2 linked regions of the Homo sapiens genome follow. The protein of the gene in region 1 binds, or shares a complex with, the protein of each later gene. Each region holds a gene or a part of one and is shown on either strand. Other genes may lie near its edges. The genes, in order: TNKS2 and SH3BP2.

The links.
Region 2: the proteins of TNKS2 (region 1) and SH3BP2 are in contact, whole or in part, in a crystal structure (PDB 3TWR), measured with the Homo sapiens proteins. Residues at the interface, in NP_079511.1 of Homo sapiens: Arg525, Ser527, His531, Phe532, Gly535, Tyr536, Asn537, Arg538, Leu560, Asn565, Ser568, Tyr569, His571, Asp589, Trp591, Phe593, Glu598, Lys604; in NP_001116153.1 of Homo sapiens: Leu413, Gln414, Arg415, Ser416, Pro417, Pro418, Asp419, Gly420, Gln421, Ser422, Arg424.

What each region holds. Positions count from the first base shown.
Region 1 is NC_000010.11:91,856,799-91,864,660, reverse strand, and holds part of TNKS2 (poly [ADP-ribose] polymerase tankyrase-2), read right to left. Parts: intron 7,237-7,862; coding exon 7,131-7,236; intron 5,200-7,130; coding exon 5,013-5,199; intron 2,663-5,012; coding exon 2,506-2,662; intron 1,725-2,505; coding exon 1,662-1,724; 3' UTR 1-1,661. UniProt on the Homo sapiens protein: Poly-ADP-ribosyltransferase involved in various processes such as Wnt signaling pathway, telomere length and vesicle trafficking.
Region 2 is NC_000004.12:2,788,472-2,796,798, forward strand, and holds the start of SH3BP2 (SH3 domain-binding protein 2), read left to right. Parts: upstream 1-4,613; 5' UTR 4,614-4,667; intron 4,668-8,327. UniProt on the Homo sapiens protein: Binds differentially to the SH3 domains of certain proteins of signal transduction pathways. Binds to phosphatidylinositols; linking the hemopoietic tyrosine kinase fes to the cytoplasmic membrane in a phosphorylation dependent mechanism.

The sequences.
Region 1 (7,862 bases):
TTCTTAAATAATGATCATAATTTACATCACAGAAACAACTCCAGAAATGCATTTACTCTGATTAACTCTTACTCAGGACAAGGAACATGATTTTCTAGCACTTTATGTACAAGTTACTGCAAAGGGCCAGTTAATTTACAGACTGAATAAAACGTAAAATAAAGGTGAACTGGTACAGACAGTGATGGGGAATGTCCTCATTAAGTGAGTAAAGATCTTTCCTCGACTTTGAAGGGAGCTAGAGTCAACAAATAAAAGAGATTGCCAAGCCATAATGGATGTATGTCTCTGTAACAAGATGCTTAAGCATGCTTCCTGGAAAAGAGTTTTATATTAGAAAATAGGAATGGCATTTTATGGGACAGCATTTCCTTCTATAGCTGCCAAACTGAGCACAGGCGTGGTCACCATATGGTGCACAAACTGACAGCATATTTCCAATTGGGCATAACATCATGGAGAGAAAACCCAGGAGCAAGAAGCACCTGTTTCACTGCACTTGCCCATTCAGGAGGCCTGGAGGGGACTGAGACAACTACATTTTATAGTTCTGGGTTAAGTTTACCCATGATGTATAGATTGGCTATAAATACAGCAATAAAACCAAGTAAAAAGAACAGGAAAAAATATACTTAGGATAAAAAACTACCCAGTCCTGTTTGTGATTTTTTTTTTCCCCTTTAGATTTAAGGTAATTAGAATAGATTGGGAAATGATTTAGGATTACCCTTCCCACCCTGGAAATGTAACATCCTACTTATGTTCCATGAAAAGAACACAATAATTGTTCAACAGCAAGATTTAGTTTCTCTAAAAAACAGGAGCACTTTGCTCTAATTTTCACAGAAGGACTGCAGAAAATTTTCCAACATGAAAGCTAGAAATTGAGGCCAGTAAAGAAGCTTCTTTAGTAATCAGGACCTATCATAGTTAGAGCTCTTTGGAATGTGTCTCATACATACAAAGGTATCACAAATTAAATCTTCAGCATATTCATAAGTTCTTAAATGAGAAAGATTTCTAATGACAGATAAAGGCTCCCATCGGCAAATTAAATCTGATAACTCAATCTTTCCCAACTAACAACTGAACATAGCCTCTGGAATCAAATGTAAAGATCACTCAATCATGACGATGTAAGATGAAGTATAGATGAACAATACATATGAAAAAATTTTGTAAACCGCTGCAGTTCTAAAACAGATTTATATTACAAAGCAATGTAAATAAATACTGGGCTAGTACAAAAGCTCTTATTTACAGTTTTACAAATGAAATTGTATTCAGTGTAAATGCTGTGTTTTAAAGAACACAGTATTGTATTAGTAAAATTAGTTCTGTTGAGGGCATTACAGTTTGTTAGAATCAATGCATAACATATAAAAGGTTCAAGTTAACTCTGTTTATAATTTAGTACAGACAACCCAGTTTAACCTGGAATGGCATCTGTTAAAGTGCTGAAAAAACAGGAAATATTTAGAAAACACTGTACATTATTAAAGCTTTATCAAGTCAGAATGTTAAACTTCGTTCACATTTTTATCCTTTTGCCACAGGCCTGTGGGCAAGATGATTTTTTTTCAGCAAAGGAGTAAAACGTAGAGGCCACTGCTGCTTTGATGATTTTAGGTTCAGTGGAATTAGTTTCTTAAAATAACTATTTATCCATCGACCATACCTTCAGGCCTCATAATCTGGTAAGTAATTAAATACTCAGGATAAGCCTGGAAGAGAAAGATAAATTCAAATAATGGTACAAAAATTTTCTTGAAAGATAAACAGACTTTCCGGAAGTATTCCTAATCTTAGGGAGGAGGTTCTAAATTACTGTTGTAGATCAGAATCATCTAGGGACATTTTCTCAAAACATCTTTACCCTGAGTACAGTTCTTCAGATTTTCAATCAGCAAGTCTAAGATGAATACTAAGTTCATAAGTATCAGATAAGACTAAAATCATGTCTGATTTTAGTAACTGCGGTGATTCCGATACCTACTCCCAGTTCACAACACTGCTCTAGAACTACTTTTGGCTCTCACTGAGAGCAAAACACAGTTATATACTTCTTTGCTATGGACAGGCTGTTAAATACAAGATTTCAATTATTTATAAGAGCTAAGAAAAATCCGGAACGACTGGCGAAATTTGAATAAAATCTTCTTGTTTTTAGGAAATTTACAATTGAAATAGTTAATGGTAAAGGGACATGCCCTGCAACTTACTCTCAAACAGTTCACAAAAAAATAGGTACACACACAAGGAAAGAAGGAGAGAATGGTAAGAGTAAAAAAGAGAACAAAATATTAACATTTAGGAAATCTAGGTAAAGGTTATAAGAAAATTCTCTTTACTATTTTTGTAACTTTCCAAATCTGAAATTATCTCCAAATAAAATTTTTAAAAAATCCAGTTAAGGCAATATGTCTTGTCAATTCAAGAGATTAATAAAAAGTTAAAGTATGCCTCCCTAGCATTTTTGAAGATGAACAAATAAAACTACATTACCTGTTCTCCTCTGTAAATAACATATTCAGCTAATGCTAGGCCATTTACACTGGGCCTACCAGTGACTGAGTGATGACCTGGAGGAGAATGTGCCATTTTCATTGCACTGAACTGCAGGAAAGACTTTCCCAAGGTTACCCGGCAAAAGAGCAGCTGCCTATAAAACGAAAAGGAAAAGATCACCCTGAAGTCAAATTTGATACATAAATATGACAATGTGTGGACACGGCATAAGTTTTAAAAAATTATTTATACATAAATACTTATAATTGTTTTTATCATTTCACCCCTAAAAGAACTTTTTAAGAATGTCTTCTATTACTCTTATTAATGAAATAATTTGTCAATTTAGTTAGTCCTTATTTTAACTATAAAATCTGAAAAATGTAATAACCTTATAGAGATACAGACTCTACCACCTTGTTTGTATCTCAGCAAAAAACAAAAGTCACTGGCCAAGTGGGAAGGAGAAGGTTTAGTGGACTTCCATTAAGTGGCTTGCAAAGTTGGACACATATCTAATTAACTCCAGTTGATTTTACCTTCAAAATATATTTGAAATCCATTTACTTTTCTTAATTCTACTGTCACTATTAAGTCAAATCACTGAAATATTCACCTGGACTATCACACAATGGCTTTCTAAACCAGTCTTCCTGTTTCTTCTGTAATTCCTGTCCAAACCTTTCCCATCCAACTAATTAAAACAAACAAAAATTAGATCAAGTCACTTTTCTGCTTAAAACCTTTTAGAGGCTGTCACTGTACTTGGGAGAAAATCCAAATTCTGTACAATGGCTCCAATTTCTTGAATCTCATTTTATGTTCATTATGCCCCATGCACATTAGTTTTCTTTTCTTCACAAAGGCCAAACTTGCTTTATTAATGGTCCCCATCCACAGAATTTTCTCCACCATTGGAATGTTATCTATTTTACCACTCTTCCACTGGCTGATACCCACTCAATTTTCAGACTTCAGCTGAAATGTTACTTCCTTAGATAGGAAGTAAACTGGTAGTCTCCCCTCACCACCAGTTTCAGTAGATTACCCTCTCACTCCTCTCAGGCATGTGACTAGCCTTTCTTAGTTTCAAACAACCTTTTAGTATTAACGTCATTGTTTCTTTTTAGAAGATAACAGGAGATTTCTGTAGACCAGTTGATGGTTCTATCTTCCAAAGAAGAGGGAGGTATTAGAATGCTGCTTATTACTAATAATCAGAACTATTTAGCCTTCAGACCATATATGACAAATAAAAACAGCAGTGTTCAATTTACAGGAAATTACATGCCTCCTAACCACTCCAATTTATGATCTAAAATAGAAGTGAGTGGGACGTCATACATAGGAGGGCCTACTGTGTACTACCTATGCAGGCCTAAATTTAGAGGGGTAACAGTAAGAACAAAACAAACACAAAGAAAGAACCTGTTTCCCTCCATGACTGCAATTCTTCAGCTCGGAAGCCCTTTGAAATCAACTGGGAAGCTTTTAAAAATTCTAATATCCAGATCATGCCCCAGACCAATTAAAAGAGATTCTGTGAGGGTGGGACACAGGCATTAATAGTTTTTTAATATTCCCTGGGTGATTCCAATGTGCTGCCAAAGTGCAAAGTACTGCTCTAGGGGTTTTTTTCTAGATCAGTGGTCAGAAATACAGTGTCACATCTGGGAACTTGGTAGAAACTCAAATTCTAGAGTCTCATCCCAGATCTACTAAATCAGCAACTGAGAAGGTGGAGCCTAAGAATCTGTGATTTAAACAAGCCATCTAGGTGACTCTAATGCATGCTAATGCTTGATAAACTACTGCTCTGTATATTCAATAAGCAGTGCCCTAACTGTCGAATAAATCTCAGGAATTAATCTTACTGGATTTTTCAAGTGGCATTACTTTTTGCCTATAAGGATTTTATAAGTTAGGGACAAGTTACTTAAATGATTTTTAACAAGTGAGTTAGAACAGGTAATTAAAAGTGGAAAAAAAAAGTGCAAAGTAGTTATTTGATTATTATTTCCTTTCAAAAAGGATCAATGTTTTAATTTCAAGTTCTTATAGTAATATTGCAAATTGAGGATTAGGATCGTATCACAGTGGAAGAGAGGCTCAGGCACTGCCATCAAATAATTAGATTTGACAAATAATGCCATTTTAGCATTTGAATACTAGATTTTTAGAGTCCACAGAGTCCTACAATACTCAAGGGCTACAATAAAGCCTCTTTCATGCCTAATGTTACTTTCTACTCAGTATGCTTTAAGGCACCAGATATTCTAATGATTAAATTAGCCAAACAGGTCAAGTGCTTAAATTATAATTGGCCCATACGGATCATTTAATAAATATTAGCTATTATTACAATTGGTGAGAGGGCCAAAAGCAATCTAAAACATGCCTAGCTTGCATTCCTAAGACTGTCCAACATAATGCTTTGCCCTCAAAAATGCAACTAGTTCTTATCTGATTACCACCAAAATAAATGAGAACAAGTGATCTCTTACCTGTGGCAAATGTAACAAGATCTGTCTTTGTGAACTGGACACCCAGTACCTCCTCCAATTCCATATACATATTGATTGCTTTTGGAAGAGTTTTCAGCAAAATAAATGCCAGCTCCAAACATACCACCTATGTACGCATGCCTTTCATCAAAGCCTTTGTGGATAATTGCATTCACAAAAGGAGACCCTGAAACACATATAGATGGGTAACAATAATTTAAAATTTATCTTAGAATAAAAAGTAAAAAACTAGTTTCTTAGAAACTGAATTCTTAAATATATAGCCCAACCATAATAAAGCCAAAACGAAAAAGGGTAACAAGTTAACTGTCAGCCAGCTATTTTAGAATAAAGAACTGCTAACATCAACTAATGTTTCTAACAGAGTGCTGGTTTATGTGCTAAAATAAGGACACAGATTGAACTAGAAAAACAGAGTACTTGAAATATCAGTGTAAGAGTTACCAAATGCCAGACTGCAAATCCATAAAAATCTAAAACCAAGAGGCTCATAATTCACTTTAGATAGCAAAGCTAAATGCAATTAGGTCTTAGAATGATGCCTATGCCTGTGTGCTTTTTTGAAGATACCAAGTGGCCCAAGTAGACTTTCACATTCTTTTTTTTTTTAAATTTTTTTGAGATGTAGTCTCGCTCTGTGGCCCAGGCTGGAGTGCAGTGGCATGATCTTGGCTCACTGCAACCTCTGCCTCCCGGGTTCAAGCAATTCTCCTGTCTCAGCCTCCTGAGTAGCTGGGACTATAGGTGCACACCACCATGCCTGGCTAACTTTTGTATTTTTAGTAGAGACAGGGTTTCAACATATTGGTCAGGCTGGTCTCAAACTCCTGACCTCAGGTGATCCACTCACCTTGGCCTCCCAAAGTGTTGGGATTACAGGCGTGAGCCACCGCACCCGGCCCAACTTTCACATTCTTATTCTCTTTCTTATACCTCTTCTCTTCTATCCTTCCACTTCTGCCTTTCATTAATTACGATACAAGATTCTATCTGCAAATGTGGTGCTTTCCCTCACCCCCTGCACATTGACTTCTCTCTCCTCTTTCCTTGGGAGTGGAGTAGAGTGGGGGATGGAAAAAGTCAAAAAACCACAGCTAATTCATTTATCAAGATCACATTCCCTTTCCACAGACAGACAGGAAAATATACTGAATTCTACTTTACAGAAATACAGATGAATAGAATCATTTTTTGAATTAACTTGGGAAAACCAAAATTATTTATATTACAAATTAGAAAAACCATATTATAACCATCAATTAACAGATAAATAAATATGCTCTGTGTCAAGAGATTATCATGATAATTATTTAGGGTTTTGGAATAAGGAGTGCAACATGTTTAGATTCTGCACATGAATCCATTCTGTTACAGCCATTCTCCCAGGGTATTATGAAATTTACTGTGTTTTAGAGAACTTTACAGGTCTCTAAAATTTTTCTGCAATCAAGGACAAATGAAGAAACAGACTGGAACTACTATGGGTAATGTACTTGAAGCCCTCATAAATACTACATTAATATGTTTAACTTTGCTAAAATTTGAAAGACTAATCAACACCTGCCAGCTTATAATACAAAAAAAGTAGAAAATTCCAAGAAGAATAAGTAATTGTGCTTTCAATTCAATTCTATGGTTTCAATTCTACAGTCATCAGAAACCTCTACAGGTTCAATAACAATGGCTCTTTTCAAATTGTGTGGGTTTGATACTTAGAATCAAAATCAGAATAGGATGTACACCTTCTTCTGAGGTGATTCCCAGGTCTTATTTTTAATTCAATCAACTAGTTAAATGGAAAACACAAAATTTCCTAGAGTGACCATAAGCAAAATTTACTATTTAAAGAAAAAAGGAAAAGATAGTCAACACTCTCATTTCTATTTTTATTGTGGTAATCTTATTTAAAAACAATCCATTATAAAATACACAAATTCAAAAGAAGTTGAAAATATAAATGTGAAAGTTACAGAAATAGTAGGTTTATCTTAAAATACTGACATAAAGAATATACAGGCTTATTATTATTTCATATCTGAACAAAAAAACTATCCTAATGTGGAAGACAGTGGTAGAGTTGGTGGGGAGGAATCTTACCATGAAATAGCATTCGTTCATTGGCATGGTTGTGGTTTTCTTCAGAAACTTCTTTTCTCCGGTGAGTGTATCTTTCCCATAGTTTCTTGTTACAAACCTTCTGAATCTATAAAAAATAAACCAGAAAAATCAAATCTTTAGGAATTACTTACTGACTTCTTCATCTAAACCAAACATGGGACATACATTTAGCTAGAAGGTAGGCAAAACTGTACTCTGAAATATAAAATGTGTTATTTTAATCAACTAAAAATACTTTGTCCCAACCATAAAATTGGAAGTATAGCTACATTTTGGAGATTAAAAAAATTCAAAGAAAAAAAGGCCATATGTGAAGGTCAGGAATACTGTTAATTTATTAAAACACTTCCATTCTCATTAACTTAAAACTATTACAAAAACACCTCCAAATCAGACATGCCGAGTTTTTTCTGTATAAAGTACTAGAAAGAGAAGAATATCCTTTTTCCCCAATGTATTTGTCTGAGTTCCATATTAATCTGTTTTAAATTAAGAATATTTGAAATAGCGTCCCCCACCCCTCAACACATACACAATTACTCCCTCGACCTTCTGATTCAGAAAATTTTTGTCCGCAGAAGATTTTAAGGTGGATATCAGTCTCATTAGGAGTATTTCTAGGAACAAAATTCACAATACTAGTGTTGTTTCTTAGCTGTGTTTAAAGGTGCTACAGCCCCCTGCTGGTTCCTAGAGCACACCTGGAAGCTG
Region 2 (8,327 bases), on another chromosome or scaffold:
TAAAGGAGAAAATATTCCCCATCCCACCCAGGGCAAGGCGTGAGGCAGCCAGGCCTGGCCTGGGATGCAGAGATGGCCCAGAGCCTGGGAGGGGCCACTCCTGTCCAGCCTGCCCTCCCTGCCAGAGTGCCTGCCACCAGCCCAGCCTCCTGGGAGAGATGCCAGCCCCCAGCCCTGTCCTCAGAGCCAGACTGATGCCTGCGTGTGAGGCCCAGCCTGCCTCCTCAAACTCCTCTTCCCATGAGCCACAATCCTCCCCCACACCCCCTCTGCCCCTCCCTCCAGTGCTGGGCTGTGTGGCCAGGGGACTGGACTGTGTGGCAGGATGACTCCACACAGCCTCCCCCAGGGAGTGGGGATTGGGGGAGGTAGGGTGGGAACCTGTCCCCTCCTATCCCCAGGGAAGCAGGTGGGAAGCCTGTGGCCTTGGCCCTACTCAGGAATTGCCTCTCCTAGCGAGGCGGCCTGGTGAGGTGGTACACTGTATCACTGTGGGGCCACTCCTGGGGACAGGGACAGGTGGGAGGGCAGGGTCCATGCTTCCAAGGTCCTCTGGACACGGGACCCAGGTGGCAGCTCCAAAACCTGGCTAGGATGGGCACAGTGGCTCATGCCAGTAATCCCAGCACTTTGGGAGCTGAGGTGGGTGGATCGTTTGAGCCCAGTAGTTCGAGACCAGTCTGGGCAACATGGTGAGACGCTATTTCTACAAAAAAATAAAAAATATAAATAAATAAAAATTAGTTGGGTGTGGTGGCACATGCCTATAGTCCCAGCTGAGGTGGGAGGCTCACCTGAGCCCAGGAGGTTGAGGCTGCAGTGCCACTGCACTCCAGCCTGGGCAACAGAGTGAGACCCTATCTCAAAACAAAAGAACAAAAACAAAACCTACCTAGCCCCTTCCTTGGGGCTGCCCCTTGAGGCCTTTGTCTGTTCATTCACCAATCATGCACTGGGAGTCTATTTTGTAACTCAGGTGCCCTGGAAGCAGAGCCCAGACCAAGGGAAGCGAGGGGTCCAGGCACACCCGCCAAGGGTGATCTAGGGGCAGGAATGGCAAGTGCAAAGGCCCTGAGGTGGGAATGTGTCTGCGGTGCTGGAGGAGACAGGAGGCCAGTGTGGCCAATGCTAAGCGGGGCTATGGAGAGAGAACTCAGGGAGCAGGCAGGTGGCACAGGCTCGGTCTGGGCCCTGCCCATGCAAGGATAGAAGGCATTTGCCTTGGGGGAGGTGGGATCTACAGAAAGTTCTGAGTGAAGAAGTGACATGACCTGACTCACACTGTGACTGCACCCCTCTGGTGTGATGATGGACACTGCCAGGCAAGCGCAGGAGAGGGAGGATGAGGCAGGCAGGGGCTGAGAAAGGCAGGATTCCAGGTGTGCTTTGCCAACAGAACCTTCAGGGCGGACGGGATGTGGGGCGAGCAGAGAGGCATCAGTGCGGACGACTCCAGGGTTGCTGGCCCAGGGAAGGAAAAAGAGACTTGGCAGGCGCATGAAGCCCCCTGCTGGGACGCCTGTGACACGTAGACCAGCGGCAGATCTTGCCCTCGCCATCCTAACCGTCAGCCTCACCCTCAGCAGGTCCTGCCCTACCCCCCAGACAGCAGCTGCCTCTGCCTGTTCTGGGTCCTGCCAAATCAGTGGCATGGCCGATGGCACACGGGGGATGGGTGTGGCGGGGGACCGGCCCCCTTCTCTTTGGCCTTATTCTGTGGGTGTGATTGGGGCATCACCATGGGCTTCTACCCCGGATGTGCCCTGTGGAGGTCTGCTCCCCAGCTCCCTGCCGGCCAGGGGTCCTCGCCTTACCTCTGCTCACCTGCCCTGCATACCCTCCCAGCAGGCGAGGTCATCCTCCTCACCCATCCCTGCTCTGTCAGCCTCAGCGGAACCCCTGGGTGCCCAGAGGCTCTGGCCACAGCCTCCAGCAGCTTCTTGCTCGGAGGGGCTGCTGGGAGCTGCCCTGAGGCCCCAACTAGGAGTTCCTTCCTCCCACGCCCTGGGGTTGGACTGGTAAGGGGGGAGAAGGGGAGGAATATGAGGTGTGGGATTCTCCCCACGGTGGAGGCTGCACCCTGTTCCCCCTGTTTGGCTGAGGTGCCCTGCACAGAGGTGCTTTGCATTTCTGGGTGATCATTCTCTAGGCGCCTGGTCCGTCCACACTGTCTGCAGTGACCCTGCTCCGTCAACTCTGAGCTTGGCATCTGAGGCCAGCCCTGTACACCCTGCCCTGTAGTCAGGCCCTGGCGGGGCCGCACCGACGTTTGGCTTTGCTCCACTCCCCTCCCGGTCTCTGCCCCTTTCCCCAGCTGGTCCCCTGGGAACAGGACACTTGCTGTGACCCAATGGCATCTGCTCATTTGTCCATTTGCTCCTCTCGTGAGCCACAAGGGTAGGGACTTCCTTGTATCATCTTGGGTCCCCGGGGTCTGGTGTGGGGCCAGGCATTTATTTAGCTGAACTGGACATCAGGGACATCAAGATGTACAGCCCCAAGGTCATGAGTGTTTTGTCAGGAGCCTTAGACCAGTCTGGCCCAGCCTGGAGCTCCCTCCGCATGTGGCCTCTTACAGGAGTGACGCAGCCCCATGCGGTGCTAACAGTGGCAGCACTGAACGTCGGATGGGGCTGAGCCCAGCCACTTCCACAATGGCTGTAGTTCCTATCTCTTCCTCCCTGCTAGGAAAATGTGAAATAGCCCAGAGTGGGGGGTGGGCAGAAGAGTTGCAGGCTACCCAATGCTGGGATGAGCAGAGTTGAGACCTGGGGAGCCAGGCCCAGGACACTTACAGGTGGGGATGTGAGCAGGCACCCCAGAGAGTGAGCACCCCAGCCAGCCAGCACCCATCTACTCCCTCACTGGGGTCTAAGTTCAGCCCCGAGAGCTAGGCTGTAGGTGGGTAGAGTCACAGCCCCAGCGCCGGTGTGAGGGGTGGCCCTGGGCCAGGTAGAGTGAGTATCTGCCTGCTGTCATGCCCCATCCACTTCTGCCGCCTCCCCAGTAGAGGACCCCCTCCATTTCACAGATGGGGAAAAGGGGCCCTGTTGTCTGAAGACTCTCCCATATCCTCCCCTGCCTCTGCCATCCCCTGCTTTGTCCCTTCCCTTCCAGAGGCCCTGCCTTGGTCCTGGTCACTTCCTGGTAGGCACTGGCTCTTCCTCTATGCCTGGGCTCAGGGCCTGGCCACCTAGTTTTCTGACTCCTCCCACTTACTCCCCTCCCCAGTTAACCTCTCTGATCCCAAGTGTGTCTCTCCAGCAGGGAGGAGGGCTATTGCAGCCAGGGATCCCCTTTCTGAGGCTTGGGACCCATTATTGGGCAGCTCTGGGACAGGTGGACGGTGACTTGGCCCACACTCGGTCCAGCTGCAACCCTGAGAACCCGCTTGGTTTGGCTGTGTCTCCTGGAGGCCCTCAGGTATTTCAACCTGTAGGACCCAAACCCAGTCCTTCACCTGCTGCAGGGCCAGCCCTGGACACCCCTGCCCCTGCCTGATTTGGAGCAGCCAATTCAGCCCCTGTCATTGGACTCTGGCCTCTTGTGCTCAGTACAGAGGGTCAGACCTTGGCCGCCTGCCTGGACAGGGCCAGGTCACCACCACCCACCCCCAGCTCCCTTGGGTTCCCAGCAAGATCCTGTCCTTCCTCTACTCACAGCTTCCTGGGCTCTGGGACCTGGGGTCCAGTCCCCACTCCTCATGGGGAGGAGTCCCCCCACGCCCCAAGCAGTTGACTCCCGCACTGGTGGGGGGTCCGCTCGCCCTCAAGCTCTGCAGGCCCAGCTTGGTCTCCCCAGCCTCTTCACTTTCTCCACGGCTCCCTCCACCTACCTGGCCCTGAGAGCTCCCCAGGGAAGCCATTTCCTCCCAGGAAGCCCCTCCTCTTCTCGCCCCTGCCCTTACACCAAGGCATCTGGGCCTACTCTTAGGGAGAGGGTGATGGTGGAGGAAAGGGAGCCTCAGAGGAGGCCAAGTGTAAAGCACCCGGTCTCCTGTGCCTCCCAGCCCCAAGACGACCTCTGGGCCACCGGAGTCCAGACCTGGTCCAAGAGGCGAGGTCCCCCTGGGAAGTGCCTGAAAAGTACCCTGGAGGACATTTGGAAACAAAGACAAGGTTTCCTGGTGCCCAGCAAGCCCTCCCCCACCTCCCCTGCTCCTGTCTTGGCCAGGGCCTAAGTCGCACTCACGGGGCAGGGGTGGGGCCGCCCAGGATCAGGACCACGGGGCTGGGGGGGTGGACAGCGCCCTTTCCACCTGGGTCGCTGGGCACTGGGGTGTCACTGGGAGGGACACGCAGGAGGGACAGACACGCTACCTCACTCACGGGCGAGAACTAAGCACCTACTGTGGACCCGGCGTCTAGGCCCGCGACAACGCCAGTCTTCGCCCCCCAGGGGCCTCGTCCCGGGGCCGCGGAGGCCACGTGCAGTTCCCCGCCCACCCTGAGGTACCGGCCCCGCCCCACGCCCAGCTCGGACCTCCAGGATTGCGGGACCCGCCGGGGAGGGGCGGGGCCGGGGCGGGGCCAGGAGGAGGGCGGACTGGGCGGGCGCGGGCGGGACGGAGCTGCGGCGGCGGCGGGTCCCGCGGGCGGGAGCGCCTGGCGGCCGAGTCAAGCCGCCGCCTCGACCCAGGGCCCGCGGGCCAGGAGAGCGCTCGGCGGGTAAGCCTCGGCGGCGGGTCTCGGCGGGTCTCGGGGGTCTCGCGGGGGGGCGGTCTCCGCGTCTGGAAGGGGCTCGGCGGGCCTTGGCGGTCTGGGGGCTCTCGGCGGGTCTCGGGGGTCTCGGGGGAGTCTCGGGGTCCCGACAGGTCTCGGCGGGTCTCGGGGGTCTCGGGGGAGTCTCCGGGGAGTCTCAGGGGTCCCGGCAGGTCTTGGCAGGTCTCGGGGGAGTCTCAGGGTCCCGGCAGGTATGGGCGGGTGTCGGGGGTCTCGGGTGCGCAGCAGCCTCCCCCGGGCCCCGGGGCCTCCGTGTCCTTGCCAAAGGACGCACGGGGCCTGGGCACGGCGGGCAGTGCCCGAGGGAGCGCGGCTTCGGGGCGGGGGCCGGGTGTCCCTTGCCGGGGGCTCAGGGGTGGGAGGCGGTGCGACGCGTCTGTTTCGCACCCCTCGCGCCCCTCTGGCCCCGCGGCGGGGCCCCTTTACGCGACCCTCCCCACAAGACTCAAAGGCTGCGGCGGGCACTCGCTCTCCGCCCTTCCCGGAATCCAAACTTCCCTCTGCAGCGGCCGCGCTTCACGGAGGGCAAGAAAAGCCGCCCACTGGCGCTGATTCACACTGAAGTGTGAGTGACTGATAGCCGGGCGTCTGAGACTCTCATGGGCAACAGGGAATCTCAGGGGTGGCAGAGGGACTGGAGGAGTTAGGGGGCGGGGACAGCCCCTTCCACCTGTACGCTGGCCTCCCTGCAGCCCAGCACTTTCCCGCTGCTCTGGGCCTCGGCTCCCTGGGGGTATTGAGGGCCTGAGCCCTGCTGTGGGGAGCCTTCTGCTGGTGCTCCTTTCCGTGAGCACCTCCTATCCCCTCTCTGTGCCTCAGTTTGCTCATCTGTTGACACTGGGGACAGCTGTGCCTCCTGGTCTAGTGGCCACACTTAAGTCCTTCGAATTGGCTGTGGCCAGGGGCGGGTACTCCGTGTGGGCTGCTGGGGTGGACAGCCTGCCTGGATGACATGTGTGTGGCCTTGCAGGTGACATGGGCCGGTGATGCAATGTGTAGAATTGTTTCCACAACCGCCTGAAGGCAGGGCCCACAGCCTCCTCCTTGCCGAAGCAAGCCTCTGGGTTCAGGTCAGCCCTGCACCAACTCCATGAGCCTGGACAAGCTCCTGCCCTCACTGGCTCAGGCCCTGTGGGACCAGAGGAGGGGCTGGGCTCCACCCCCTCCTGGTTCTTCCCACTCTGTCCACTGTCTCCTCTACGTAGACACCGTCGAAGGGCCCTCTTGGAGCCCAACCTCAGGGCCCCACTCCAGGCACTCCACTCCTGGCAGGACAGGAGGCCTGGGACGAGGGCTGCAAGGGAGTGAGGATTCTGTCTATCCCCTCTCCCTGCCACCCGCCAGGCTCCCTTTGCCTGGCTCTGTGCCCTGCGTTAGGCACACCCTGGAGGGGGCAGGCAGAAGGAAGACAGATAGGCAGCCGTGTCTAGGAACTGCCAGCCAGGGCCATCTGGTGAGAGGGGTGCTGACAGGGGACCTGGCCTTTCAGGGAGTCCCCAGGCCTCCAGGATCATGGGGGAGCCCACCAAGGAGGCTGGCCTGAAGAGGCAGACAGAGGGAGGACAGGCTCTGGGCCTGCCTTGGCCCTTTCTGCCCACATGGACAGAGGAAGCAGGGTGCTGAGTCAGCTGGAGCTCCCCACCCCCCAGGGATGCACGCACACAAGCAGGCCCACAGACGGGAAGTCCAGGGGCCCAGAGAGACGAGATGGCCAGCCTTGGTTCCTGAGGGGCAGGGAGGAAGGGCGCAAACTCAGCCAGGATCTTGGGTGTGAACTCAGATGCCACCAGTTTCCAGCTGTGTGATCATGGCCAGGAGGCTTCCCCCTGCCACCCCTCCGTTTTCTCATCCATGACCTGAGGGCTGTGAAGCACTTTGTACCTGGTGGGTGGCTATGAGTGTCCGTAGGGGGGATGGTGGTGGTGGTGACATGTGCTTGGTATTCAGTGACAGTGGGTCGCTGAGGGTGCTCTCCCTGGTCCTCAGGGCCGCTGTATGTCCTGTTTTGGGTGGGGGCAGGGACTGGCCTGGAGAGGCCTGGGTAAAGGCCAAGGCTCCCAGGTTCCTGCCCACATTGGACTAAGGCCTGAGTCCATCAGGAGTGGCCAGTGTTGGGCAGCCCCTGGGTCTTCCTGCGTTCTGTCCTCAAAAGCTCCCTTGTGGGGACACCCCAGGTCAGTGACTATGTGTGGCAGGCTCTGCCCTCCTCACTCTCTGTCCTCTCTTGACCTCATGATCTGCCCACCTCCCAAAGTGCTGGGATTACAGGCGTGAGCCCCCACGCCTGGCAGAGTATATAGTTCTTTAATAACCGGGTGGCTTGGCCATCACTGTGCAGCCTGGGTGGGTGAGGAGAAGGGCAGGCTGGCGGGGAAAAGACGGGGAATTTGCCACAAGGTGAGAGCTGTCCTACCCCAGACGCAGTGGAGCGGCTCCCACCCCTCGGGCCAATGAATACAGGGTGGGCCGTCAGGAGGAGGGATCTGAGCCGGGCGGGCAGCCATGCAGGTACAGACAGACTAAGCCAAAGGCGGGCGGTAGGGAGGGTGGGAGACCAGTTTGACGGGAGTGGCCTTTGCATGCCAGGTGTGGTGAGGGTATGGAGGGGCCTGGGAGGCAAGGAGAAGGGGCCGTGCAGACCCTGGAATCCTTCCTCCAGGATAGGCGGCTCCTCCCCAGAAGGCCTCTGCATTCTTCTGGTGGCCCTGTCTGGACACCGAGGGGCTGGAGACAGTCCCACGTGTGGGCTGCCTAAGTCCCAGAGGGGGTGGTAGGGAGCATTTCAGGCTCACTGGCTGGCCCCCTTCCCTGGGGCACTGGACCCTCCTCACCACCCCTTGGCCTGTGCACGGGAGGGTAGACAGGATGGTGCCAAGAGCAAGGGACTGGCCCTCAGCCACGGGCCAGGAGACCTGAGCCTTGTAGGCGAATTGCACTTCCTGACCCTCAGTTTCCTGATCTGCAAAACGGGATGACAGAAGTCCCTGGCTCTGGACCACGCTGCTGGATTTGGGTTCCGTGCCGGGCCCCTGACTACACTCATCCTTCAAGGGTGACGCGAGAGAAGCACGTGCCCAGGTTCGGGGCGGGTGGAGACCTGGGTCAGACAGGAGTTCGAGGTGGTGCAGGCTCCCAGGAGGGGAGAAAGGTGCCCTCCCCCAACCTTCTCTCTTCTCCCCAGGCTCTGTAACTTCCAAGGCCATGAGAGTGGTCAGGCCCTGCTTGGTTTCCCGGCCCCCGATCACAGATCGTGCTGGAACTGCTGGCCCCAACGCCCTGAGGTGACTGGCCCTTTCTTCATGGATTCCGGTCACATCTGGTCCATCTTTGTCAGCTGGCCTCTGGGAAGAATGTGGGCTCGGCCACCTGGAGCAGTTGCCTGGGGAGATCAGAGGAGCCCTGAGGGGTTGGCAGAGCGCCCTCGTGGTATCCATACCCCCATCCCTGTAGCTGAGCTGATTCCAAGAAGTGCCCTCTGCTTCCTTGTGAATCAGATGTTTACTGCGCTCCTGCTGAGCCTGCTCCAGGCAGCTGGGTGGGGCGTAGGGTGCCTGTCTGCTCAAGCCTGCAGAGGGAGGCCAGCTCCCCACCCCAGGGTCAGCCAGG